7 separate regions of the Homo sapiens genome follow, and all the other regions are linked to region 1. Evidence: fine-mapped expression QTL. A gene starts in region 1. Each other region holds a variant in brackets. All regions are shown on one strand. Distances are from middle to middle.

Evidence for each region. PIP is the estimated chance that this variant, and not a neighbour inherited with it, causes the effect.
Region 2: its variant is the best candidate, but not a certain one, in a credible set for the expression of LINC01239 in thyroid (GTEx, PIP 0.77).
Region 3: its variant is the best candidate, but not a certain one, in a credible set for the expression of LINC01239 in transverse colon (GTEx, PIP 0.59).
Region 4: its variant is the best candidate, but not a certain one, in a credible set for the expression of LINC01239 in subcutaneous fat (TwinsUK, PIP 0.71).
Region 5: its variant is the best candidate, but not a certain one, in a credible set for the expression of LINC01239 in esophagus mucosa (GTEx, PIP 0.76).
Region 6: its variant is the best candidate, but not a certain one, in a credible set for the expression of LINC01239 in ileum (GTEx, PIP 0.86).
Region 7: its variant is the best candidate, but not a certain one, in a credible set for the expression of LINC01239 in subcutaneous fat (GTEx, PIP 0.90).

What each region holds. Positions count from the first base shown.
Region 1 is chr9:22,643,716-22,647,787 of GRCh38, reverse strand. LINC01239 (long intergenic non-protein coding RNA 1239) reads right to left here and starts at 1,588. Exons shown (of 6, transcript NR_038977.1): 1 at 1,492-1,588.
Region 2 is chr9:22,457,982-22,462,053 of GRCh38, reverse strand. No RefSeq gene overlaps it. Among named protein-coding and RNA genes, the nearest start is that of DMRTA1, 13 kb to the right of the region's middle. The variant G/T (reference allele first, on the strand shown) is at 2,279.
Region 3 is chr9:22,831,822-22,835,893 of GRCh38, reverse strand. No RefSeq gene overlaps it. Among named protein-coding and RNA genes, the nearest start is that of LINC01239, 190 kb to the right of the region's middle. The variant G/A (reference allele first, on the strand shown) is at 1,979.
Region 4 is chr9:22,765,592-22,769,663 of GRCh38, reverse strand. All of the region lies in intron 4 of LINC01239 (long intergenic non-protein coding RNA 1239), which reads right to left. Among named protein-coding and RNA genes, the nearest start is that of LINC01239, 120 kb to the right of the region's middle. The variant A/C (reference allele first, on the strand shown) is at 1,664.
Region 5 is chr9:22,452,275-22,456,346 of GRCh38, reverse strand. DMRTA1 (DMRT like family A1) reads right to left here. Exons shown (of 2, transcript NM_022160.3): 2 at 607-4,072. Among named protein-coding and RNA genes, the nearest start is that of DMRTA1, 7.5 kb to the right of the region's middle. The variant C/T (reference allele first, on the strand shown) is at 2,196.
Region 6 is chr9:22,821,567-22,825,638 of GRCh38, reverse strand. It overlaps LINC01239 (long intergenic non-protein coding RNA 1239), which reads right to left. Exons shown (of 6, transcript NR_038977.1): 5 at 4,041-4,072; 6 at 1,426-2,387. Among named protein-coding and RNA genes, the nearest start is that of LINC01239, 180 kb to the right of the region's middle. The variant A/CATAAA (reference allele first, on the strand shown) is at 1,728.
Region 7 is chr9:22,755,856-22,759,927 of GRCh38, reverse strand. The region is part of intron 4 of LINC01239 (long intergenic non-protein coding RNA 1239); the gene reads right to left. Among named protein-coding and RNA genes, the nearest start is that of LINC01239, 110 kb to the right of the region's middle. The variant T/G (reference allele first, on the strand shown) is at 2,213.

The DNA of each region.
Region 1 (4,072 bases):
GTATGAGAAAGCAATTCACATAAGAAAATAAACAGGTAATATAACGGAAGTAGTATCTATATTTGTGAGTCACAAAAATGAACTAGAAATCACAGTGAGATATCATTATTCACTTTACACAAATGAGAAGATAGAAATAAAAGCATCGGCTGGGCGCGGTGGCTCACGCCTGTAATCCCAGCACTTTGGGAGGCCGAGGCGGGTGGATCACAAGGTCAGGAGATCAAGATCATCCTGGCTAACACAGTGAAGCCCCGTCTCTACTAAAAATACAAAAATTAGCCGGGCGTGGTGGCGGGTGCCTGTAGTCCCAGCTACTCGGGAGGCTGAGGCAGGAGAATGGCGCTAACCCGGGAGGCGGAGCTTGCAGTGAGCCAAGATGGCACCACTGCACTCCAGCCTGGGCTACAGAGTGAGACTCCGTCTCAAAAAAAAAAAAAAAAAAAGAAAAGAAAAGAAAAGAAGTAAAAGCATCAATTTCACCACAAAAAATTAATTTGGAGGATAAAGTATAATATGAGAACCCACTGGCATGATAATAATCCAGGAATTATACAGACTTCCCCCTGTTAAAAGCAATGCTAAGCTAGATCATGTGTACCAATTTACAAAGGTAAAATCTTGCTCTCTGAGGGCAGCTGTCTTCTAAGACAAAAAGGGTGGAACTATTCGGAGCATGTCTAATTGATTTTTTCCAAATTTATTAATCAGAGTGAATCACTCCATCTTCTCTGGTAGATAGTGAATAGAAGAGCAGAGAGAGGCAAGGAGTGTAGCACACGGAAGACCACATTCACCTGGAAAGAAATATCAGGACTGAGGACAAGAATTCCTCTCCACACCTTCTCCCCACCCCATCACCCTGCCAAATTCCAGTACAAAATAGTTTCACTAGCTGGTCTATCATAGCTTTGGAAAATCCAATAGTAGAGATTCAGTTATTTGAATAGAGTTTCTTTTTTAATAACAAATGACCCCAGGAGGCAAAATACCGATAAATCCTATAACCTTTAGTATGTTATCAGAAACGAAAGTAGCCTTGAGAAAAGGAGAGATCAGACTGGAAAAAGGAAAACGGACTCAGAAACTTAGTTATCTCAGCTATGAAAATTAGGTAGTTGAACTCCTTGAAATACAGGGCTCCATCCAATACTATGTACCAATTGTGGGATAACTAGAAGTAAATACAGAGTTAAAACTGTAGTCTCAGTTGTTGTCGGTAATAACAGCAGAGATTGCAACCTAAAGGGAATGTGCAGCACGATCAGATGCACACAATCTATTTTCCACTTCTCTAGTGTGTCTCAGCTTGTTAAGGTTAAATACAGAATTTTTTTTCTATTTTGCTTTATCTGTCAGTATAAGATAATTAAAAAGAAGTGAACTTCCTTCATCCATTTATCTTGGATGGCATGCACACTTTATTCTGTTATCACCAAAAACATAAAACCTAGAGAAAATGCAAATTAAAATTTTTATAAATGTACATACCACATAGTTTTATAGACATCTATGTTCCACTCTTAAGCCAGGGTCAAAGTAGAATTCTCTTTGGTCTCTCTTCCCTTAGAGGAACAGAAAATAAAAGACCGAGAAAACAGACTGTGATGGAGGATTCATTATAAGCCAAAACCTGAATCACCATAATTACACACAGTTCATAAGTGCAAATCGTACCCATCTCTTGGCAGATTAAAAAGCCAAGTGATGAGTAATATTGCTGAGCTAAACATGCCTGTTTCATAAGCCACTCAAATCAACACTCCTGTTATCCCTTGACACACAGGCAAAAATTCTATCTGTAAGCCTAATAAAATCTCATTTGTTTTACCTGAAGGTCCTATGAACCACCTGGTGCCTCTCTTTGCACTTGTTTTTCTCTATTAACTTATGCTTTGTAGAAATTAAGGCTTTAATCTGATAATTCTTTCCACTAGCTTTTAATTATTAGGTTAATGTGTGAATTTGAAGCAAGCAGTCCAATATGAAACTATTAAGAAAAAAGTTGAAAATGCTGAATGATATTAGAAATTCTAGACGGTAAAATTTAGACAATAATTAGTCTTCTGATTTTTCCTAATGACAGTTTGTAGGAAATACAGGTTGAGCATCTCTAATCCAAAAGTTCAAAACTGGAAATGCTCCAAAATCTAAACTTTTTGATTGCTGACATGATGCCACAAGTGGAAAATTCCACACTTGATTTCATATGACAAATCTCAGTCAAAACACAGACAGAACTTTGTTTCAGGTACAAAGTTACGTAAAATATTATATAAAATTATCTTCAGTTTTGTGTATACAGTGTATATTAAACATAAATGAATTTTGTGTTTAGACTTGTGTCCCATCCTTAAGATGTCTCATTATGCATATGCAAATAAATATTCCCAAATCTGAAAAAAAAAAAATCTGAAATCTGAAACACTTTTGGTTCCAAGCATTTTGCATATGCGATAGTCAATCTATACTGTACAATGCTAGGTTATATTCACAAAAGAGTTGTTCACAACAGTCTCAACTTTTGATTAGAAAGTTGTTATTGCGGTAGCTAAATCTATAAACTTTTTAGCACATCAATATGGTAACTGCTACACATAAATATAAAATTTATTTTTAGCTTTAAGTTTAATGACTTCTCTTTAAAAAAAAAGCTAATAGTCAAATACAATGTATGTTTTCAAATTTAAAATATTTTTGCTTAAGAGTAAGATTTAAGCTTAGTGACGAGAAAAAACCTGAGACGTTTCTTGAGATATAAATATTGTAGCCTTTAATTATTAAGTGTTTTCAGAAGCAAAAATTAGCAGCCAACTATTTGCTAATAAAGAATTAAGTAACTTGTACTTTAAATACCTTATTGGTAAACTTACATCCTTTTTCTTGAAGAAATCAACCATACTAAGAAAAAAACTCACAGAAAGTTTTGTAAGTCAAGTAAAGGTTTGGTCTTAACACAGGCTCAGTTATGATGCCTCCACTGAAATTTGTTCAAGTGTGGCAGAATATGACAAAAATATTCCCAGTTTCTGTCGATGTATGAGCAGAGAAAGAAAAATGTCTATTGTTTGTCAAGTCACTAAAATTTCATGCTCCCTATTTTGTTCTTTTTATTTTTTCATTCTATGTTGCTCTGTCTCATCTGAGATTAGTGCCCTTATAAAAAGAGATATGAGAGGGCTTGCTTCTTTTGGCTTTCCTCCATGTGGGAATATAAGGGAAAAGCAGCCATCTGCAAACCAGGAAGCCAGCCTTCACCAGACACTAGATCTACTGACACCTTCATCTTGGACTTCCCAGCCTCCAGAACTGTGTGGTCACATAAGCTACCCAATGTATGGTGTATCTGTTTTAGCTGCTCAATCTAACACACATGGAGGAAAGCGGACAGGACACAAGCCCTCTCATATCTCTTTTTATAAGGGCATGAATCTCATTCCTAGGGTTCCACCCTCATGTCCTAATTACCTCCCAAAGGCTCCACCTATAAATACCATCATTTTAATGATTAAACTTCAACATACTAACTTGATTTGGGGGTAAGGGTATGCAGATATTCAATCCATAGCATCCTGCGACCTCCTCTTCTCTAACCCTCCACCAACCCTTGACAATCATGAGGAAACTGACACAAACTATATAACTATATGCTTATATTTTTTCTATCCCCATCTATTGCTGGATCATTTTCTATTACATCTTTGCCTTATTACATTCCAGAATATGAGTTTATCCACAGAGAGCTCATTGCTTCCTGAGACTGTTCAATTATGATTTAGACAACACTAATTACATTTCTTTTTAAAAATATTTTTTTCTGGTGTTGAACCAAAATCTTCATCCCTTAATTTTCCTCCATGGGTTCTAGTTCTGCCACCTGTTTTCTACATAGCAACTCTTTCAAAATATTAAACTTCAGATTTCACATGCTTCTGAGTTATTTGACTTTTCTCCATAACAAGTATCAACAGTTGTTTATGCCATTTCTCATATAAAGCACTCCTTGTAACTGAGGAACACTGTGGCTTCTACCCAAGGAGGAGAAACTATGCATATTTGAGTGGTGAAGAAA
Region 2 (4,072 bases), 190 kb after region 1:
CTCAGATCCATTACCTACTCTTACCTAGCTTCTTGAGTTAAATTATTTGATTATTTGTAAACTTTTGAAAGGTAATACATTTAAAGCTGAAAATTTCCTTTTCTCAGTCTCTTAAGCTGCATCACACTGTGTAGTAGTTAATTTGTAACTATCACTCACCTCTAAGTATTTTTCACAATACTCCATTGAAATTTTACTTTCTACTCCTAAGTTACTAACAGTACTTTCGTTTTACTTTCTTAGCGTGTAAAAGGAGGCGGTTAGAGGAAAGAAAAGTTGTTATGGTTTTTCTTCAATTAAAAACATTTTAATATAATCCTATTGTGACCAGAAAGATGGCTGGCCAGTATAATAATTGTTCTTTGAAAATTTTCAGGCTGCCTGAATGGCACAAAAATGAACAAATTTACAGTCTTTCTCATCTCAGTAAGTAAGAACACCATTCAGTCCAGTTGTTTAGAGCAAAACTGTAGAAGAATCTTTGGTACCTTTCTTTTTTTTACACCCGAATCCCTAAGCAAATCTTACGGTTTCTACATTCAAAATGTATCTACCATCTTATTACTACTTACCACACCTCCAACTCTTTTTTTATTTTTACAATCATCTTCTAAGCCACTGTCGTCTCTTATCTGGTTTACACAACAACCTCCAAATGTATGTTTTTGCTCCCTTCTTTGCTCCTTTGTTCTCCACCACACAGTGAGAATGATCTTTTAAAATGACGTTTTCCTATGTCAAAAATCTCGACTTTGTATGTTGTCTTGAATGAAATTCATGCATATTCTGTGGATTATGTCAATTTCCTAGTTGTGACATTGCACTAAAATTATTCAAGATGTTACTCTTGGAGAAAAGTGGGTAAAAGGTATATGGGATGTTTCTGTACTGTTTCTTACAATGACAAGTAATTTTAAAATTATCTTAAAATAAATTTTTAAAGCTAGTGAAATCAACAGTAGGTCAGCCTAAAGACATTAGGCATTTACTATTATTGATTCCCTGTATTTAATATGTGCCCATGCTTTGATTCGGAGTAAGAAAAAATACTGCTTCATAAAGCTATACAATTGAAAAACTATGAAATTTATAATATTTTATATGCTTGATTTTGTTCTGTCAACTTGGCTAAGACTGGAAACTAAATTTCCCGGAATTTCCTTCCCTATATGTTTCAAAGTTTGAGTTGGCCCAAAGAGGAACTCTACAAGATTTACAAAGCAGAAAGGAAGCAGAAGTCATTACAGTGAGAAAGATTCAGCGGTACCCAGCAGGTCTTAACTTGTCCTTTCTCTCTTCCACTAGAAAATTAGCGTATATTCCTAATTGCTGATCTTGTCGACCAAGAGCAGCCCAATTCCCACCAGCAGGTGTTTGGCTGAGGACTCACGGATGTAGTAGCTACATAGAGAAAACTGCTTTCTATAGACACCTCCATAGTGCCCTTTCCATTAAGCCACTCTGGCAAGATCATGTGCACTGGGTTTTGGAGATTAAAAGTCGGAGTGGATTTATTACATGTTAACTGCTTATGCACCTCTAAATTATATTCCCTAGGAGACCCTCGAAGATGGTACCCCCTTGGTAAAGAAAGCACCATCATCATCAAAGTCCTCTGTTGTGGCTTTTCCCTGTATGCCAGGGATATCTGTGAGACTTGTGGCCAGGAAAATACCCTCCCTGAATTCACAAGGGATGATGTGACCCAGGAGTTGTGAAATCCAAGAAGTGGCACTTATATTACAGATACAAGATGGACATGAATTCTATGTTTTAAAAAATTGTGCTGAAGCAATTACCAGAATGATATGACCTACAGAGATGTTTTGCATTGACTAATCAATAATTGTGTTTCTACAAATGAAATAGGTGGGCAGGTTAATAAAGTCACACTTGATTTGTATAGGTGGAAAAGCACTAGGTCTGATAAAGCTAAGTCTGCCTCAAATTATCATAAGGAAAGTAATGACCCCTCAACATACTTCTAGAGTTGAACCTGTTTATAGACCCAGAGCCTCTTGCAGAAAGTGAAGATGGGTACTTGTAAGTAGAGACTCTGCTACACTTTCAGTAATTTACATAGTAAATATTTCTCCTAGCTTTCTCCGAAAGGACCTAAACCAATTTACCAAGAGACTATACATTAAGAAAATAAAAATAACCCTACTTTTTAGAATTTACCGAACAATAACTACTCTCTAGAAACCTAAACTGCCACTGTGGTCCACCAGGCTGGGTAGGTCTTAAAGAGGTGAGTAAGGTCTAATCATCAATGACA[G/T]TTTGGTTCAAGTCCATCTCACAGTGAGTCTAATGGGCTCCCAAATCTATTCTACATTTATTTCCTCATTTCTGGAAAGCATCTTTGGAAGATACATATTCAAAAACTGGCAGAATTTCCACATTGGATCTCTGACACAGGGACTGAGGACTATTACAATTGGAAATGTCAAATAGAGTCTTAAGAACTTTTCTCCCTCCCAAAGCAGTGAAACAAAAGCAATAACACATTCCTAGAGGGACCACCAAAGTTTGTGCCACAGTCAAGGATGGAAGGGGTCCTAACACATTCCCATTCAAATCACCTATTTGGCCTGTGGCTAAGGCAGATGGATCTTGTGGAATGACATAAACTTAATTAGGTAATGATTATAACTGCAGTTGTATTTCCAGATGTAGTTGCTTTATTGGAACAAACCAACACAGCCTCTTTTTTGTAGTTTTAGGCTGCTGATGTCATAAATACTTTTTCTCTATACTTGTTAGTAAGAACCACTAGAAGCAGTAATGCACGTAGCATTCCTTAAGACTATTTCAACTCTCCAGCTCTCTGCTACAGTGTAGTCCACCAGGAAGTTGTTTGCTTCTCCACTCTATGGGACATCAAGCAAGTCTACTACATAGATAGGCCACCAAGAACTTGTTTGCTTCTCCATTCTACGGGACATCAAGCAAGCCTACTATATAGATATCATTCTGATTGAACCCAATAAGCAGAAGGTAGAAAATACTCTAGATATCTTGTCCAGAGATATGCATGCCAGAGGCTTGAAGAATAAACCCTATAAACATTCACGAGCATGTAATATCTGTGGAATTTGTAGGAATTAGGGCCTGGTGCATATTGAAACATCTCTTATCAGATGGAAAACATGTTTGTGTATCTGACACCTGCTATCTCTAAGAGGTGGAGCTCTGTATTTTGGTTCCAATAGATACCTGATTTGGGCATCTTACTTTAAACCATTTACCAAATAATCCAATAAGCTCTCAGTTTTGAGTCAGGCCCAGATTACAAGGTGGTTCTGCAACAGAGCCAAACTGTCATTCAACCTCTCCTGCCATGTGGGCCATATAACCCAGCAAATCCAATGGGGCTTGAGGTGTCTTATGGCAGCTAGAGATCCTAAGGGAAACCTTCAGCAGATCCTTATAGGTGATTCACAGTATACCCCTCTCAGACTTCAGAGAAAAGTTTTGTTTTCTCACAGGGAATTATTGTCCTTTTGAGAAACTGCTTCCTTCTTGTTACAGGTTCCCACCAGAGTCCTGACACTTAGTATTGGCCATCAAATAAGCAGGTGACCATAAGTATTCATATTAACAAGGTGTTGTCTGACTCGCCAAGTGTTACGTAGCAGTACTTCATCAAGTGGAAACAATAGATGAATTTTCCTCCAAAGATGTTGAAGTAAGTCATAAATAAGTTGCATAGAAAGTGGCTTAAATTCCCATGGCTTCTATTCCTGCCACACCACCTCCTCTCTCTTATGTGGAGCTGTCTATTACAGCAGAATGAGGAAGAACAATTTTATCCTTGTTCACAGTTGGTTCTGCCCTATTCTGGCACTATCTGAATTGGACGATGAGGCACTACAGGTGTGGCCTTGAAGTATAGTGGTGAAGAAAATTTTTCCAACGGGAAGAACTTCAAGCTATACACCTGATTGTTCATTTTGCCTGGCAGGAGATATGGATAGAGGTACATATCTGGAATCAGTCATGAGCAGTGACTAACAGTTTGGCTGGATGGTAAGCAAGTTAGAAGAAACAAGATTGGAAAATCAGTAACAAG
Region 3 (4,072 bases), 190 kb before region 1:
TCTCTGGACCCACCCAAAGCCAAGGGGAACTCTGCCCTGAAAGGAAGGACACAATCCTGGCTGGCCTCACCACCTGCTGATTGTAGAATCCTAGAGCCTAGAGCAAACATAAGCATTAGCCAGGTAGTGGTTCACATCGGGCCTTGGGCAAGACACAGTCCTGTGCTGGCTTCAGGTCTGACCCAGTGCAGTCCCAGTGATGGTGGCCACAGTGGTGCTTGTGTCCTTGCACCCCCTAGCTCTAGGTGGCTCAGTACAGACAGAGAGACTCCATTTGTTTCGGAGAAAGTAAGAAAATAAAACAAGAGTCTCTGCCTGGTAATCCAGATAAATCTTTTGGATCTTATTCAAGACCACCATAGTGGCTCCTATACAAGGCTGCAAAAATCACAGCACTACTGATCTTCGGGTGCCCCCTAATACAAATATAGCTAAGATCATAATATTCAAGTCCCTTTAAATATTTGGAAAGCCTTCCCAAGAAGGATGGGTACAAACAAGACCAGACTGCAAAGACAAATTAAATACCTAACTTTTCAATTCAGAGTCTTCAATTCAAACCAGAAACTGATGAACATCCACAAGCATCAAGACCATGCAGGAAAACATGACCTCACCAAACAAACTGAATAAGGCACCAGGAACCAATCTTGAAAAAACAGAGATATATGGACTTTCAGATAGAGAATTTAAGGTAGCTGTTTTGAGGAAATTCAAATTCAAGAAAAGACAGAGAAGGAATTCAGAATTTTATCAGATAAATTTAACAGAGATTGAAATGATTAAAATAAAGTAGAAATACTGGGCTTCAAAAAAAGTAATTTATATACTGAAGAATGCATCACAGTCTCTTAATAGCAGAAATAAGCAAAAAAAAAAAAAAATTAGTGAGCTTGAAGATAGGGAATTTGCAAATACTTGATCAGGGGAGAAAAAAGAAAACTATAATAAAAAAAGAATAAGCATACCTATAAAAAATAGCCTCAAAAGACCAAATCTAGGAGTTAGTCATCTTAAAAAGGAGGTAGAGAAAGAGATAGGGATAGATTATCTATTTAAAGGAATAATAAAAGAAAACTTCTGAAATTTAGGAAAATATATCAATATTTAAGTACAAAAAGATTATAGGACACCAAGCATATTTAACTCAAAGAAGACAGAGTATTAGGGTTCTCTAGAGGGACAAAATCAATAGGATATGTACATAGATACAGATATAGATATAGATATGGATATAGATATAGATATAGATATATAAATGAATATATATCTATATGCAACAAAGCCCAGTAACAGGCAAAGGGCAGTCTCTCAAAAGGAGAGTAGTTACCTGCAGAAGATGGCAGGACCTTGCTCCAAAATCCTAGAGGCCTCTGCTGTGATTCACCTATGGGGGCCTGCCAAAGGCTCCGAACAACATGCCTATCTGCCACTGCCACCTCAAGCACCATTGGATCTGCTGGGTCATACGGCCTATGTGGCATAGCAGCTTGCACAGCACCCTGGAACTGTTGCAGAGCCTTCTCCTGTTCTGGACCCACTCAAAACTGGCAGCCTTTTGGGTCACTGGATAAATGGGCCAGAGTAACACACCCAAATGTGGAATGTGGTGCCTCCAAAATCCAAAAGACTCACTAGGCGTTGTACCTCTTTCCTGGTTATAGGAGGGGCCAAATGCAGCAACTATCCTTAACCTTAGAAGGAATATCTCAACAGGCCCCACACTACTGAACCCCTAGACATTCTACGGAGTAAAGGGTCCCTGAATTTTACTCAGATTTATTTCCCGTCCCCTAGCACACAGATGTCTCACCAAATAAATCTGGTGTGTTTGATACTTCTTGCTCACTGGATCCAATCAGCATACTGTAATCAGTGTAATATCTTGTGGAAGTGAAAACCAATCAAGGTCTCTCCAAATCAGCTAATGACACAAAAGCGGAGAGTTGATATACCCCTGATGTAGGAGAGTAAAGGT[G/A]TATTGCTGGCCTTGCCAGCTGAAGGCAAGTTGCTTCTGCTGGGCCTTGTGGACAGGAATGGAGACAAAGGTATTTGCCAAGCCAATGGCTGCATACCAGGTACCAAGGATGTGTTAATTTGCTCAAGCAATGAAATCACATCTGGTACAGCACCTGCAATTGGAGCCAACACTTGGTTAAGCTTATGATAATCCACTGTCATTCTCCAAGATCCATCTGTCTTCTGCAAAGTCAAATGGGAGAGGTGAACGGTGATGTGCTGGGAATCATCACCCCTGCATCTTTCAAGTCCTTGATTGTGGCACTAATCTCTGCAATCCCTCCAGAGATACAATGTTGTTTTTGATTTACCATTTTTCTAGGTAGAGGCATCTCTAGTGGCTTCCATTTGGCCTTTCCAACCATAATAGCCCTCACCTTACCAGACAGGGAGCCAATGTGGGGGTTCTGCCAGCTGCTAAGTATGTCTATGCCAATTATGCATCTGGCACTGGGGAAATGATTATAGGATGAGTCCAGGGACCCACTAGACCCACTGTAAGTCGGATCTGAGCTAAACCTCCATTAATTTCCTGACCTCCATAAGCCCCTACTTTAACTGGAGGACCACAATGACGTTTTGGGTCCCCTGGAATCAGTGTCAGCTTGGAGCCAGTGTCCAGTAGCCCCTGAAATGTCTGATCATTTCCCATTTCCCAATGCAGAGTTACCCTTGTAAAAGGCGAGAGATCTCCTTGTGGAAGGACGGGAGAAAGATTAACAGCATAAATTTTTGGTAGTGTAATGGGGTCCTTCCTCAGGGGGACCCAGCCTCCCCTTCATTCAAGGAATTCTGAGTCTGTAAACTGAATCAAGTCTGGAAATTGACTGAGGGGCCCCAATTCTCTGTTTTTTATTTATTTATTTATTTATTTTTTATTTTTTGCTTTTGTTTTGTTTTGTTTTGTTTAGAGGTGGAGTCTCGCTCTGTCACCCAGCCTGGAGTGCAGTGGCGTGATCTCAGCTCACTGCAACCTCCGTCTCCCGGATTCAAGCAGTCCTCCTGTCTCAGCCTCCTGAGTAGCTGGGACTGCTGTTCACTACCACACCCAGTTAATTTTTGTATTTTCAGTAGAGACACGGTTTCGCCATGTTGGTCAGGCTGGTCTCAAACTCCTGACCTCAGGTGATCCACCCACCTTGGCCTCCTAAAGTACTGGGATTACAGGTGTGAGCCACTGCACACAGTCAATAATCTGTTTTTTTAATTCAAATTATTCTTTTGTCCATTTGATCTGGAAGTTTTCTGCTTATATAAATTAAGTAGGAATGCAGTAGGCTTCCTCTCAATTTCACTTCTAGAAACACTGTGCTTAATTAGCCAATGCCAGAGCTCTACCTGAGTCAGACTATTCTGATTGCTGCTTCGCCTCTACTATCCATTACAGTAGCTACACCCACCTTCCCTTTGACAGTTGAGTGCTGCCACTTGGTCCCTGCCACCTCAGGGATCCAATTATTCTCATTGTCTTCAAGTTTTGTAGTTGAGTGACTGCAGTTCCCACCATTAGATCTGACATACAGAGAAGAGCAATTACAGGGTTCTTTAAAGATGCAGGTGCTGCCCTCACAAATCTATTTTGCAAAGCATAGGTCAAGGGTATATTTTCTGGACTCTCCCAGCTGGGATGGTAGGTATAAAGTAACTAATCCACTCCACCATCCCTATTTTCCCAAGCCTTTGGATCCCTTTCTCTACATTAAACCAAGGGAGATCAGGCATTTCCAGCTCACTCACAGTGGACCATCTTTTAATCCTTATCTCAGCCAACCAAGAAAATAAACTATTACAACCTGTTTTAACTCATCAAGCTGCAACGTTAAATGCAGAATCCCTATTTAGTGGGCCCAAATCAATAAATTCAGCCTAATCCAAATCTGTGTTCCTTCCACCATTATTCCATACCCTTAATATCCATTCCCATACCTGTTCTCCAGATTTTTTGCTTATATAAATTAGAAAACAAAAGCAGTTCTTTACGAGTGTAGCATACCTCCTCATAGGTCACACTCTCAACCTCACGTCTAGGAGCCCACCAGGACTTTAGTCTACT
Region 4 (4,072 bases), 120 kb before region 1:
GGGGCTGCAATAGGCAGGGGGAGTGGAAGGGCAGGTGGAACATTGTGTGTCTTACCTCCAGGAACCCTACCAGGACCTCATAGTGAAGATCTGAAAAAGATCCTTTTGTGGCTCTAGCAGAAGAAGGGAAAAAGAAATAAGCTAACAGCATCCTTCTATTACAAACGCCTACTGTCCACAGGATAAAGCTTTGCCATAGCTTTATCCTACTTGGAGGAATGGGCTTACTCTCACTGCAACCCTCTTGAGCCTTCCTGTTTCATGCACAGTGAAAGAAGGAATTTAAGAAACACTTGTGAAGGTCAGAGCCAGGAGCACAGGCCCAATAAAATAGCAAAATTTAATTTTAATATTACAGAATGCTTCCTCTCCTTCACAACTTACCACCAAAAAAACAGGGCTCTAAAATAATACATTGTATTTCAGCTAAAAGAGTTGTGAGACAAAGATTATTTGAGGAGGAATACTGAGGGAAGCCCAAGTCAACCAGTGACACAAAAATAAGGTCACTGGAGAAATTTGAAACCTCTGACACCTGCAGACGCATACACATTAAGCACAGCCCATCAGATATTAAATACAGTTTAAAGCACCCAGATTAACAAAAACCTTTACACTAAACGTGTACTTCAGTTTTTATTACCTGATACATCATGTCTGACTTTAAACATGGCAAAAGGCAAGAACGAACAGATTCTGAAGAGAAAAAAAGTATCAAAACCAGATGCAGATATAAAGTTGACAATGAAATTATCAGAGAGGGGATTAAAATGAACTATAATTAATATATTAAAGGCTTTAATGGAAAAAGTAGAAAATTTTTTGTGAAGTTTATATGAGAAGATAAAAGACCTAGAATAAATAATCAACCTAATAATGAAGAAGAACAAATTTGGAGGACTGACACTACCAACAAAAGGAATCAGGGCTTCTTAGAGAAATATCTAATTCTAAGACGTGGGCAGTTAATATGCAAGATGAGTTTTTGGCATCTTATAGTGTTTGAAAATGAAGAAAAATTTAAAAAGTGAAACAAACATACTAAACACAATGATGTATTATGTCAAAGGGACTAAGAGTCACCTGAAAGAGCTCCCATTGTCCAAAGCTGGAAACATCTGAACAGTAAAATAAAAGGTGGTATTGTATTATAAGCCAAAGTATAAAGTACCCATGTAATTATCCATGAATCCATATTGATATGAATAAATGACTGAACAAATAGAGATGAATGTCAAATAATATATGTAGATACTCTACCTTCAAAGAGGTGAAGCATAAATCTTTATTACTCAATTGTGAATTATGCGTAGTGACTTGCTTCCAAATGGTGCTATATAACAAGGGAGGAAAAAGAATAACTTTACAGTAAGAAAATCTGCAATTGCTACCTCATCCAGGTAATCATGGTTTACATCTACAATGTTATGTACACTTGGCATACTGTGATAAAATAGCTTTTCCACGATGATTTACCTCCATGCCTTACTTCTGTGCCTTCCCTCCATGTATCCCCATCATCCCAGTCTAATTATAGGAAAGCATCATACAACTCTCATTGTGGGAAATACCTGACTGTACTCTAGAAAACTGTCAAGGTTATAAAAACATGATTATCAAAATTCTTGTCTGAGAGTGTCACAGCCAAGAGGAGCTTAAGAAG[A/C]CATGATGACCAAAAGTAATTTGGTATTCAGATGAAATCCTGGAACAAAAAAGAACATTATGAACAAAATCTGAATAGAATATGGATGTATTTAATACTAATGTATAAATATTGCCTAATTAATTGTAACAAATTTACCACACTAATGTAAGATGTTAAAACAGGAAAAACCTGCATTTATGGGGGTAATGGCAACTCTGTACTCTCTTCACAATTTTTCTGTAAATCTAAAATGGCTCTAAAATTAACAGTTTATTTTGAAAAAGAGAGAACAGGTAAACTTATAAAGACAGGAACAAAACTAAAATTAATACAGACTGTTCATTAGACAGTAGGAAAAAATGCTTGAAGAGCTGAAAGAAGAAAACCATAAACTTAAAATTTTATATTCATCAAAAATGTACTCCAGATCCTTCCTATTACATATAGAAACACGACATAAATGTTAACTATCAGTCTTCCTATCAGCATTGTACTGATGAACTAACTCATCAAACAAAAAGAAATATGAGCTATTAGGTTGGGAAAGTGTGATAGATTGAATTTCAGCCCAAATTCTTTCTCCCCTCTTTATATCTGTTCTTTTCGTATACAAGTTTCAAGTACTGTCCAAGTCTGGGCAGGAAATTTTACTCAGCCCTTAATGTTGTGATTCATAGCTTTGGCCACGTGCTGTTTGTAAACAAGACACAAATAGAGACTTCGCACATACTTAGATAATTGGACTTGTTTACCTTTGCACCTCTACTTTCACCATGAGAACTTGCCCAAGTTATTCTGAAGAATGAATGTGGGACATATGGAGCTTCACTGCATAGCCAGCCAACTGTAGACAGAAAATGTAACTCAGGAAGACACAAACAAACAAACAAACAAAACACAAACCAAACAAACAAAAATCCCACCAAACCTAAATCTCTGATTTTCAAATTCACAATATGAATAATTATTAGAACAGTGAGTTTAAAGTCAACTTTCTACATAGTATTATTGTGGTAATACGTACTAATACAGAAAGAGTAAATTTTTATTCTAAGATGATATAATTTCATGTAGAAAATTCAAAATAATCTACAGACCATTATAATTCAAAAATGGATTAAAGAAGTTGGGTGGATCCAAGGTTAATGTAGAAAATTTATTTGTGTTTGTATATGCCAACAATAAACAATTATAAATAAAAATTTAAAATATGATTAATAATTTCATAAAAATTCACATAGTAATGATGCAGTAAAAGATATACAAGACTTTTATTCTAAAAATGTTGAAATGTTATTTGGAGAAACTAAAGAATACTTAAAACATTAGAAAGTTTATGAAAGTTCAATATTGTTAAGATGCCAAATTACTAAATATTGATCTATAAATTTAATATAGTTGCAATCAACATGTCAGCAATTTTTTTGGTGAAGATTGATGAGCTGATCATAAAACTTATATAGAAACAAAAGTTCCCCCAAAAAACGAAGACAATCTTAAATAGCAAAGAACAACATTAGAGGTCTTATATTCTCAAATTTCAAGACATGATAAAGTTATATTAATTGAGGAGTTAATTGTGCATTGTTAGACAAATAGACCAATGGACAGAAAAGAAAACCTAGAAATATACCCACATATTTCCAGTCACTCCAATATAGTCACCTAATTAGAGCAAAAGAGGATGGACTTTTCTGTAAGTGACAGTAGAATGTTTGGTTATCTATATGGAAAAATTATGAACCTTGAGATTTACTTCATACTATTCTTAAATATAAATGTGAATTTGATCTTAGACCTAAATCTAAAATTAAAGCAGTCAAACTTGTGTGGGGAAAAAAAAAAACAGAATATATTCCTGACTTAGGATTACGCAAAGGTTTCTTAAACAGGAAAAGCAATGACAACAAATATAAAACTCAACTGAATTACATTAAAATTAAAAACTTCTGTTTCTCAAAATCATGATTAAGAATTGAATAAGCAAGCCACAGACTGGAAAAAAATATTTACAATACAAGAATCTGGTAAAAGGCTTATATCCAGAATGCATAATACACTCCTACAAAACAATCAGGAAGAGGTAAACAATCCAAATTTTAAAATGGCAGAGATGATCAGGCAATTCACAAAGTAGCATATTCAAACCAAAGATATATGAAAAGGAACTCAACTACATTACTATCATTATTCATCAGGAAAATGCAAATTAAATTCAAACTAAGATTATAATTACACATTCACCGGAATGTTTAAGTAAAAAATAATGAATACTAAGTGTCAGTGAAAATGCGCAGAATTTTGCTGGTGGAAAGGAACATTTTTACAATCATTTTAGAAAACTCTTTGACACTATCTACTGAAATAAAACATAGACTACTATGTCACATAGCAATTCTTCTAAGTGCATACTCAGATAAATCTGGG
Region 5 (4,072 bases), 190 kb after region 1:
AGCCGTGTTGACAAGGAGTACACTGTACTAGACTACACTATCAGTTTGGCTGACTGCAAATTACATTTCTCAGAATTCCCTTTCCTGTATTGTTCAAAGTGAGATTGGCCCAGAAAAAGGAATTATGGTGAGATTGTTAAGGTAGAAGTGAAACACAAGTCATTAAGGTTAGATACCCAGTGATTTCCAGGCTGTCTTCACTTTTCCTTACTCCACATCTAGCTTGTCTTCCTGCCTTCTGACCTCACTGACCCATGGTGGCACAGGTTCACCACCAGGTGTTTGCTCACAGACCAACAGAGCTAGAACCTACACAGAGGCACTGGTTTCCCATAGCCCCCCTTCAGAACCCCTGGCTGGGAACCATTTGAGTGATTGGACATGCTGGACTTCACAGAGCTTCAGTTCCCACTTGTCAGCCCACACCAGTGCTTCAAGTAGATGAGTGAATCTTTCTCTTATCTGCCAATTTCCCTCTTCCAGACATTCATTTTCAAGCTCCTCCTTTGTTTATGTTAGGTTAAATTTCTATAACTCCCTTATTTCCACATATTACATGGACTCTGTTTTCCTGACAACCCCAATAAATGTAGCATAAACACAAACTATGATTTCGATGTTTATTTTCTTCAGAAAGCCCTGAAAATAATCCAAATAACATATACGAGAATATGTTACAAAACACGTGGCTCGCCTATGAAATGAACAACCAAACACGAAGTCTGGAACTAAGCCTGTACGCTGCTCTAGTGATGGCTGCCCTTTGGGCTCCACATCCACTAAGTGGATTAAATGCAATTACAGTACTCTTTGTTGAGAGACTGCCACGAGGGGGCAAAGATAATATCTTAATACAAAGTAATAACAGTGAGAGTTATTTATTTAGCATCCCGTATATAAGCATTACTGTACTCTGCCGTTTATTTAAGCTTTTATCTCCACGAATCTTGCAAGTTAAATATTATTACCCTTGTTTTGCTGAGAAGAAATAAATGTCCAAAGAGTATAAGTAACCTGTCCAAGTCATATAGATAAATCCATTCTAGGTTTCCTCAATTCCAAAACAATTGCTTCTTCTAGAAAGACATATTGGTATTTACCTTATAGGAATTGTACTAATATTTGTCTTCAGTGTTCTCCCATATCCTCTTTAAGCCCCACTCATGCCTATATACCTTACACTAACCTCTGTCAGTTTTATTCCCTTGTAAGTCACGCACTGCGTTCTATGTCTTTCTTTTCTGCCTACTCTCAGGAGGCTATCACATAGGCAAAATTCTGATGAGCAAAACTGCACTGTGTTTTATTGATAAATAATGGTAGGGTGTTTTAATTTTCATGGCCTTAGAATTGAAATTCCATGACTTATTTATTTAACAAATACTTTCCATGTTTCTAATGAGCTACAAAATGATTCAGTCCCAATATTAAAGCAGTAATTAAAAATCCCATCAATCAGGCTCTGATTGGTATTTTCTACATGCATTTTTCAATGAGTTCCAGATGCTTTATCATACGAGGCAGCCACTACACTCTTGGACAGCTGTTAACTGTGAAAAAAGTCATTCCTTATGTTCTTCTGAATACTCTATGAAATGTTTGCCTCTTAGGCCCTCTATATGATACAGAATAAACCCAATTCATTTTTGTTATATGCTAGCTCTTAAAGCATTTACCCCCTCTTTCTTCCCACCACTAATTAGTGGCTTAGGAGTTCAGGCTTCAAGCAGCATCCATGGATATAAATATCAAGATTACAAAGAACTCATTGATGTACCAACACTGTCAAATAATACCAACATTGGTTGATTGGTTGTTTTTGTACACACAATATAGACCGTGAGCAACTTGAGGCAAAGTCTTGTATCTTAATCATTTCTTTATCTCTTGTGTCTAACACAGTGCATGGCACAAATAGATTATTAAAAATATTAAATAGGTGTTGAATGAAGAAATTATTAAGCTAATACTTGCTTTTATTTTTTTTCAGTCAGTGGAAATCTAGTGTATAGGTTGAGAACCTATATCAGACACTGTTCAAGGCCATGAATGAAAAAAACAGACATGAATCCTTCCTCAGACATTGGAGTCTGAAATTGCTGAAGTGAGCACAGTAATTCCACTGCAGATGACTCATATTACTAACCTTAGGGAGAAAAAACCCTACTGCTGAGCCCCAATTTCCTCATATACTA[C/T]TGAGTTGTTAGACAAATGACCTATTTGATAAGATTAAGTCCTTAAATTATTATAAAGAGTATGGAATGTGTAAGGCATTATATAAATTAAGTTTTATGATTATAAAACTATTTTATAAATTCGAATACTGCCCAAAATGGATGTTCTCCCAAGGTCAAAAGCAATTCAGTTTCTCAGATACAAGCACATCATTATAAAACCACATACATAATGCAGTAACTCTAGGATTTTTTTTTAAACCATATCTCTATTGTATAATGTAACTTCCTTTAGAGCACAATATTTTACATTCAGTATCCTCTACAGGATCTAGCACTTTTCAGAAAAATAGCATTCAATAAGTGGATTAATGCAATAGAAACAACTGAAGAATCACCAAGGAATCTAACCTGAATACCATTTAGGAGATTCAAGAACCCAGTGAAATTGTATGCAAAACTGTGTGTCTGTACGCCATTTTGTAGAGTTCTTCAGTTTTATCAGAGTCTCAAAGAGATCTATTATATATAAGAGTTTCTTACTCAGTATATATGAATTGAATTTCAACTACTTGCTAGACATTGTACTACGGTTTAGGCTTAGAATATAAAACTTTTTTATAATAAATGAATATTGAGTACATCGAAATTTTTCAAGATCTGCTTTCTTATATTCACACCATTAAAATTAATGCATAACCTAATAAACACATTTACATCCTAAATCAGCATCAGATACTCTGAAGTAATTTAATATCACATTTGCTGGCAAAATATTCCTTGGAAATACATTCTTACTGGCTTCATGAAAAACGCCTCCATGATAATATAACCTATAGGGGTTTAATGTATGTCTACATAGACTTATATATGTGCATATAGATGCATACACACATACGTATATACATATAATTTAAAAAATCTTTAGTGAGTCATGCTGCTTAAATAGTTTAAACAATCTCTAATTCATCAACTATCTTTTACCACCAGTGGGCTTCCATTTATTCCTAATAATAACAATGAAGCTACTGTCCTTCAAAAAAGAAAAATGATGACATACAAAGAAAATGTCCTAGAAACTGTTTTGTAAGCAGTTTCCTCAGGGACTTTCCACTGACTGAAATAAATAGTTTTCAAATGCGCCAGAGGGAGGACAAAAATTATTTTTAAAATTGCAAGAATACCTCTGAAACTTCATGGCAGTTTTTCCCCTTTGGAAATCTTATATCTCTCCTCAGTGCATTAAGCATCAACTATCTGCAGTTAATAAATATTTATTTGAGCAGCTATTTTAGTTTTCTGAATAAAATTATTCTTACCTTTGAGAATGGCTGCCATATATTCTTGTCCCAAACTTTTAAGGATATTTCCCCAGATACAGACATAAGCACACTTAAAGACTGCAACTCTCATCCACAGTAGATGTGCACTTTACAGTATGGAAATTTTAATGTAGTATAATCCAAAATGACTATTTGAAAAAAAAATGGTTATTCTCCGGAATCAATGTTTCTAATTCATATACTCTACAGAGCTCAGTTGCAATTGGCGATAGTGGCCAGGAGATGGCGCAGTCTTATTTCCTAAAATTTACTTCATAGACACAGTGTCAACTTTAAAGAGAAATGTTTTTTAATGGCACTTGTTTTCACTCATGGAAGCTAAGATTGAAAAATAAAATACTCAGGAAATATAAATTCAAAATGCTCAAATGTTTTATTTATTACGAATCACCCATCTGCAAATCAAATGCTTTAAAAATACTTTGAATAACTTTTTTCTTTCCTATGAACCAGGAATAGAAGAAACAGTTTTGAAATGGTAATTATTTAGAATTGCCTTAATTGTTCAGTTCTTCCTTTCGGTTTATATTCTATTCTATTATGCTGTATTGCTTT
Region 6 (4,072 bases), 180 kb before region 1:
AGTTCAAATATTATTATTTTAAAAGATTATTTATTATTTTAAAAGATTAATTATTATATAACATTTTATACCCTCATATACCACCATATTTGTGGAACAGGTGGGGCAATAATATAAAATAGGCAGGATAAACATATTTAATTAGATAAAGAAGCTATTATTCATATAAAGCAAGAATAGAAATCATACAAATAACAGAAATTTTCATTTAGTGAAAATGTCAAGTGTGAAAAAAGTTGCTATCTAAAGAAAGAAATCAATATCTTGAAAATCAAGCATATATGGAAAACAGCAGGATTGATAAACGTTTGGAGTAAATAATAAATTAATGACATATTAAAATTGAGAAAATTTTCCATAGGGCAATAGGAAGTCATAAAATAGATTAAAATAGTAAATAAAATTAAGATATACAGATAGTATCTTTATTTAATATATCTGTATTCTATTGTTTTATATAATTGCACTTAGAAATAATATTTTCTTTTTGGGATTTTCTATTCTTTTTTATTAGAAGCTTTAGCTTTCAATAAATATGTACAATTAAATTTTCAATAAAGATATACAATTTCACACATTTTAATATGGTAATACCATAAATACTATAAATCATTTGAGCTATGTTTTGTTCTAAACAATTTAAATTATGTTTATTATTTAACTACCTATCTGGGAAAAACTTCCAAAAATCTTATAACATTTGTGTGTGTGTGTGTGTGTGTGTGTGTGTGTGTGTGTGTGTGTATTTTCGTTCATTTACAAAAGAGTCAAGAGCAACTACTGATTTTCAGTCGGATACCTAGAAGACTACACTGTGGAAGCAGGGTGAATCCAATTCAGACTCTTACCCCCGAAATGTAGCCAAATGTTGAGTAATCTCAGTTTCTGAACATCATAAAAAAAAACCATGTAAGACACTTTGGACAACAAATACTGAGAAAACGTTTTGCTAAAATATATGAATAAAAAGAAATACTAATAGAGAGAAGGAAATGATGACAGATATAAAAGTAGAAAATTGTAAGAATGCATAGAGAGCAATAAGAAAACTGTACATATGTGGGTAAATATAAGTAAATGTTTGCATAAAAACAACAACAATCCCTTATGAGGTTTCAACTCATGTAGAATGAAATTCAGGACAACAATAACATAAAAGGTAGAAGGAGTTAAATAGAAAAGTTTTGGATTACTGACATTGTCAGTAAATGAAAAAAGTCATCTTTACGTTTAAGACTAGAATAATTGAAAGATGCATCTTTTGAATAACTAAAAAGTAAGAGAAGCTCTACATAAAATGTTAGAGATAAAAAATGGTAGATTAAAACAGCTTGTTGATCAATCAAAGACTCTGGCAAATGAAGAGAAAAAAGCATATGTAATAATAAAGTCAAACAGAAAGAAATACAAGACGTAATACTTTTTAAAAAGTTGGTGTATTTTTATTAAGATTAAAGTAGAAATTGAAGCAATCAACATGTCTAGATAGATAGTAAGTAAGTAAGTCATGCCAGTAATGATCATGGTTTACTCCAAAAGAATGACACCACAATTCTACATTTGTATGCAGGAAATAATACAACTTCAAAATGCATAAGGTAAAAAAAGAACAAAACTGAAAGAACAACTCAAGAAATTCACAATTGAAGTGGACATCTTTAACACATATTCCTGGATACTTGATAGAACAAATAGAAAAATGACCAGTAAGAATACAGAAAACATAA[A/CATAAA]AAACATCATGGATGAATTTAACTGATATATAAAAAAGTTAATTGTTTTTCTTTTCTTTTTTTTTTTTTTTGGTAGTTGAAAGATTTAATAGAGTGAAAACAGAGCTCCCATAAAATGGGAGGGGACCCAAAGTGGGTAGCCATTGCTGGCTTGAATGCCTGAGTTTATATCCTGATCATTGTCCCGCCCCTTGTGCTGTCAGGCGATAGATGACTGGCTATTTCTTTACCTCCTGTTTTTGCCTAATTAGCATTTTAGCAAGCTCTCTTTACTACCTGATTGGTCGGGTGTGAGCTAAGTTGCAAGCCTAGTGGTTAAAGGTGGGTGTAGTCACCTTCCCAGCTAGGCTTAGGGATTCTTAGTTGGCCTAGGAAATCCAGCTAGTCCTGTCTCTCAGTCCCCCATCTCAACAGAAAACCCAAGTGCTGTTGGGGAGGTTGGCCAACGACCACTCTAACTGCTTCCTGCTGAATTGGGGCGTAGTAGGTGTCATGCAGTTGAGATTTCCTCGGGAGGGGTGCCTTTGATGTCATTAATGTGGGAGCTGGGCTAGCAGGCCGGTCCAGAGGTCCGCAGTAGATCTTAGTCATGGACTGCATCTGGGGCTCCATTTGGAGAACCATTTGTAGTTTTATAGCTTTGATTCTGGAAGAGACAAACTTAACAAGGAGGTTAAAGATACAGAGATTGAAATGTATGGCCTGCATACAGGGGATTATTTCTTTGGCACACTTCACAGGACCTGACTATCTGCTTGATAGTTTTGAAAAGGCCTGGTCCAACAAATAATAATTTGTCCATCTGATGGGTGCTATCAATGCCTAAGTGAAAGGTTTGGTGAAGGATTTTAAGTAATTTCCATTGGTTAGTTGCAGGCAAAATATAGCAGCATCACAAAAATGTGCAAAATAAAATACCAAGTACCATGGAATAAACCTGTAAAACAACAAACTTTATGAATGATATTTAAAAGAACTCAAATATATGGAGGAATAAATCATCTTCATGGATTGGAAGACTTTATAAAGATTTCAGTTATTCTCAGATTGGTTTACAAATTCAATGCAGGACAACTTTGGCTATTATTTTAGGGATAACAACCATACATATATACTTAGATGTCAAGTGGTTGAAAAGTAAGAAAGAGAAGAATGTATAGGGATGACTGAGGTTTTGTACCTAGGTGGCAAGGAGGGTAGAGATGTCGTCATCTGACATTACATGTCCCTCTCCAGAATTTAGGTAACAAAATGCAGGCATGTAGAATTAGTCACATACTTTCTTTTGAAGTTTCTTTCGAAATTCCCATATAAATACCAAAATCATTCTGAGAAATTCTGGAATGTGACAAGAGTTCTGAAGGAAAATGTCTCGAAATTGCTGACCCACTGCTCCTTTGATAAGTTAATGAAATCTGGTTGCAAATCTAATCTATATTTATAGCAGGTTTTGCTTTATAAAAAACACCATTGATCTAATTCCAGTCGTTTTCCTAACACCTCAAATAAGGCATCAAATATTTTGTCAGAACTTTGCTTTGCTAATGAAAATAAACAATTTAATTTTATTGAGGAATTTGGAATCTTCAAATACTGTATCTGTGAACAGACAAGAAACTTAAATAATCGATGAAAAAATGATAGTATTTAAACAATACTGGCCCTATTACTAAGTGCTGGGAGGACACTGAGGAAGTTATTAAAATTTGGAGTTAGGCTGATAGGTTTTTGGATTCTATTCATGTATATATGGCATTCATCTAGCACTGATGCTGCTGACTTTTAAGTCAAGAATTCCTGAGTAACTGTGGTTTTGTTGCTCACAGATCTATTCCATCCGTCCATCAAGCATGGAGTTTACACAAACACACACTCACACGTGTGTATACGTATGGTCAGTATATATGTTTTATATATGTGTGTGTGTGTGTGTATATATATATATATATATATATATATATATATATATATATATATATACTGTTTTACTGTTCACCCAAAAGACATATGCCTGTTATTTTGAATTAAAAGGCTTTGTAATTTAATATTGTTAAATCTATAGTATTAGGTTGATACAAAAATAATTGTGGTTTTGGATTGTGAATTTTAAATTGTTATAGCTAGGCTCAAACACATCTATATTAATCAAAATAGACACCATTACAATCAACACATTTTTGCCAACAAGAAATAAGTTTGCTTACTCCCATGGCATAAAAATCCATGTTTTGGGATTCAGTGAACTCTTGGAAAGCATTTTCTGCATCCTGCTGGTTGTAGAAACAATTTCCCTGCAAAAAATTGTCGAAATACCTGAAGAAGTGGTAGTTGGTTGGTGAGAGGTC
Region 7 (4,072 bases), 110 kb before region 1:
GGCATACCGAATCCAGCAGCGCATCAAAAAGCTTATCCACCATGATCAAGTGGGCTTCATCCCTGATGCAAGGCTGGTTCGACATACACAAATCAATAAACGTAATCCAGCATATAAACAGAACCAAAGACAAAAACTACACGAGTATGTCAATAGATGCAGAAAAGGCCTTTGACAAAATTCAACAACTCTTCATGCTAAAAACTCTCAATAAACTAGGTATTGATGGGATGTATCTCAAAATAATAAGAGCTGTTTATGACAAACCCACAGCCAATATCATACTGAATGGGCAAAAACTGGAAGCATTCCCTCTGAAAACTGGCACGAGACAGGGATGCTCTCTCTCACCACTCCTATTCAACATAGTGTTGGAAGTTCTGGTCAGGGCAATCAGGCAGGAGAAAGAAATAAAGGGTATTCAGTTAGAAAAAGAGGAAGTCAAATTGTCCCTGTTTGCAGATGACATGATTGTATATTTAGAAAACCCCATGGTCTCAGCCCAAAATCTCCTTAAGCTGATAAGCAACTTCAGCAAAGTCTCAGGATACAAAATCAATGTGCAAAAATCACAAGAATTCTTATATGCCAATAACAGACAAACAGAGAGCCAAATCATGAGTGAACTCCCATTCACAGTTGCTTCAAAGAGAATAAAATACCTAGGAATCCAACTTACAAGGGATGTGAATGACCTCTTCAAGGAGAACTACAAACCAGTGCTCAACGAAATATAAGAGGACACAAACAAATGGAAGAACATTCCATGCTCATGGATAGAAAGAATCAATATCATGAAAATGGCCACACTAATGGCCCAAGGTAATTTATAGATTCAATGCCATCCCCATTAAGCTACCAATGACTTTCTTCACAGAATTGGAAAAAACTACTTTAAAGTTCATATGGAACCAAAAAAGGACCCGCATTGCCAAGACAATCCTGAGCCAAAAGAACAAAGTTGTACGCATCACGCTTCCACCGCCATTTTTAAAACAGACCATTCTTTGCTTATTATGTATTCTTGGTGACTTGTTGAAGATTAGTTGACCACAATTGTGTGAATTTATTCTATTCTGGGATTTCTGTTATGTTTCCTTGGTCTATGTGTCTGTATTTATGCCAGTACTATACTCTTTTGATGACTAGCTTTATAATATACTTTAAAACCAGATAGTATGAAGTCTCCAGCTTTGTATGTCTCTTCTAATTTTGCTTTGGCTATTTGAGGTTGTTTGTGGTTCTATATGAATTTTAGGATTGCTTTTTCTATTCATGTGAAAAATGTGATTGGAATTTTGATGGAGATTCATTGAATATGTAGATAGCCTAATTACTAACATTAAAATATGTAAAAGTTAAAATATCCTGGCAAAGGCAAATATATAGGTCAATTCAGAATACTCTAATACTGTAAAGTTGGTTTATAAATCATTTTTAACTTCAATATAAAGTTTAAAAGACAGAAGTGCTAAAAATAACATTCGCTACAATATTTTATTAATAAATACACAATAAAAGATATATATTGTGATATTAAAAGCATAACATTTGAAGGTGGAAGAAGAAGCAAAAATGTCAAGTTTTTGTATGCAATTAAACTTAACTTATTTACAGCTTAAAATAGACTGGTATAACTGCAAGGTGTTGTACACCTCTTAGTAACCACAAAGTAAAAACCTATAGTAGATACACACACACACAAAGTAAATAAATATAGAGAAAGAAACTGAAACACACCACTGAAGATCATCAAATCATAATGGAAAATAACCTGAGTCAAAGAAAGGAAAAGGGAAATACAAATGAGTCCGAAAACAATTAGCAAAATGACGCTAGTAAGTCCTTACATATCAATAATTACTTTAAACATAAATGGATCTTAGAGAGTCTAAGTGGATTAGAAAAAAAAAAAGACCTAAGTATATCCTGCTTACAAGAGACTCACTTTAACTTTAAGAATATACATAGGCTGAAAGTGAAGGGATGGAAAAATATTCCTACAAATCTAAACCAAAGAAAAGAGGTGTAGTTTTATTATTTTCAACAAAATAGAGTTCAAGTCACTGATGCTTTTAAATATTTATATCTTTGGTCATTTATCAGGGTTGTTTTTAGTTATTCCCCATGGAGGACTGACTTTCAAAATCCCATCATTCATAGAAGTAAAAGTTATCCCATCCATAATATTTTGAACACAAAGCTGACAGGA[T/G]TTCTGCTGGATTAGATGTGAGTTTTGAGAGAATCAAAATATGACTTCAAGTTTTGAGTTTGAGCATTTAACAGAGGACAGTTGCTATTTACTGAGAAAGGTACAGTAACTCAGAAAAATAGAAATAGGCAAATATGTAACAGGAACATAAATTAATCAAAATAGAGCAAAGTGCTAGAGAAAAGATCAAAAAGGAAGTTCTTTAAAAGACTGATATAATAAACAATTTTATAAAGATTGAACAAGAAAAATGTCAGATGCCAAGGCTATCAACAAAGACACTGCAAACAAATATATTAAGCAAAGTGTATGAACAATTTAAAGCAAATTTGAAAATGAATATGAAATGAAAAATTATCTAAAACAATGTAACTGATAAAAACCAATAGATATATAAATGAGACACTTTGATATTTAGACTTCATAAATTAGAAACTTTAATATACTTGAATAGAAATATTTACCCACCAAGAAACCATAAACCTGAACCAGTTTGTGTTTTTCAAAATACTTTCATAATAAATTATACCAATGCTATATAATATCTTCTAGTAGAAAACACCTTAAAATACACTTTGTAAGCATTACAATAATATAAAAACCACAGGCTCTCAGAAGACCAGAAAATTATAGGCCTACCTAATTTAACATGAGAATTTTAAGCAAACTAACAGCAACTGAATCCATTCACATATCAGCAAGAGACCACCTCTTCAGTCCTCAAAAACAAGAAAAAGCAAGATAATTGCTGAAACCTGAAGGAGACCCGAGGATTAGATGTTATTAATAGTTCAGTGTTAACTTCATGATGTTGTTTGTGATACTGGATTTTGTAGGAGGAAGACTTACTTGTAGAAAATGTACACTACATTACTAGGAAGTTATGTGAAATTAGGTTAGAAATTTACACTTAAGAAAAATTATTTGTAGTGGTTTTGCAACCTTTTTATAAATTTCAGATTTTTTTTTCTCAAAATAAAATTTAAAAACTAATGGGTATGAATAGACAAGCCACAAGCTGACCAGTGAGATACAGTACTTTTACTTTTTCTACTTCCCCTTTCTTCAGAAATTATTTTCAAAGAAAAAGCAGCCTTCTTTTGATTTGGAGAAGACAAGTGAATAATGATGGCAGATGGAAGAGATGGAAAGAGGTTCTTAAAGCAGGCTATATCTTTGATGTGACCCTTGACTTTCCACCTCTTGAGACAATACCTTGTTTCTAAGCCTCTTTTAATATGTATCTCTGGTACTTATAGAACATTAATAGTTATATCAGTGCTTAAAATAATTCAAATCTCTCATAATCAAATAAGCTAAAATTGGGACTAACAGTATGTTGTTAAAACTGATAGAGAACAAATCGGAAAAATATTAGGTAATAAAGAACAACTCTCTAAAAACACATTTGATATTATAAATGAAGTGGTCTGTTTTGGAGGAAACTAGATATTATTCAAAAATAAAGACTAAATGATAAAATTGAAGAAGTCTGAAGTGACTCAAGAATAAAACCTGATAATCTCATGGAAGAAATTGGGAAATATTATTTTTAAAAATTCCTAAAGATACATTGGTGGAGGCTCTTTTACTTGTGAATTTTCTTAAATTTAAGAAACATTTAATTCCCAGGCCAGACACACTGATTCAGAATATAAAAAATGGTGTCAAGCTACACAATGTAACTCATAATGACAGAACACAAAATCTAACAAAGAACCCCTTGAAATAAAACTACAGGATAATTGTACTTAAAATATATACATCATCAAATGGAAGTGAGTTAAAATCAATATTTCAAAATAATTTTTTACTGATATTGATAAAGATTTACAACAGCAGTCTGCTCGCATAAAATAT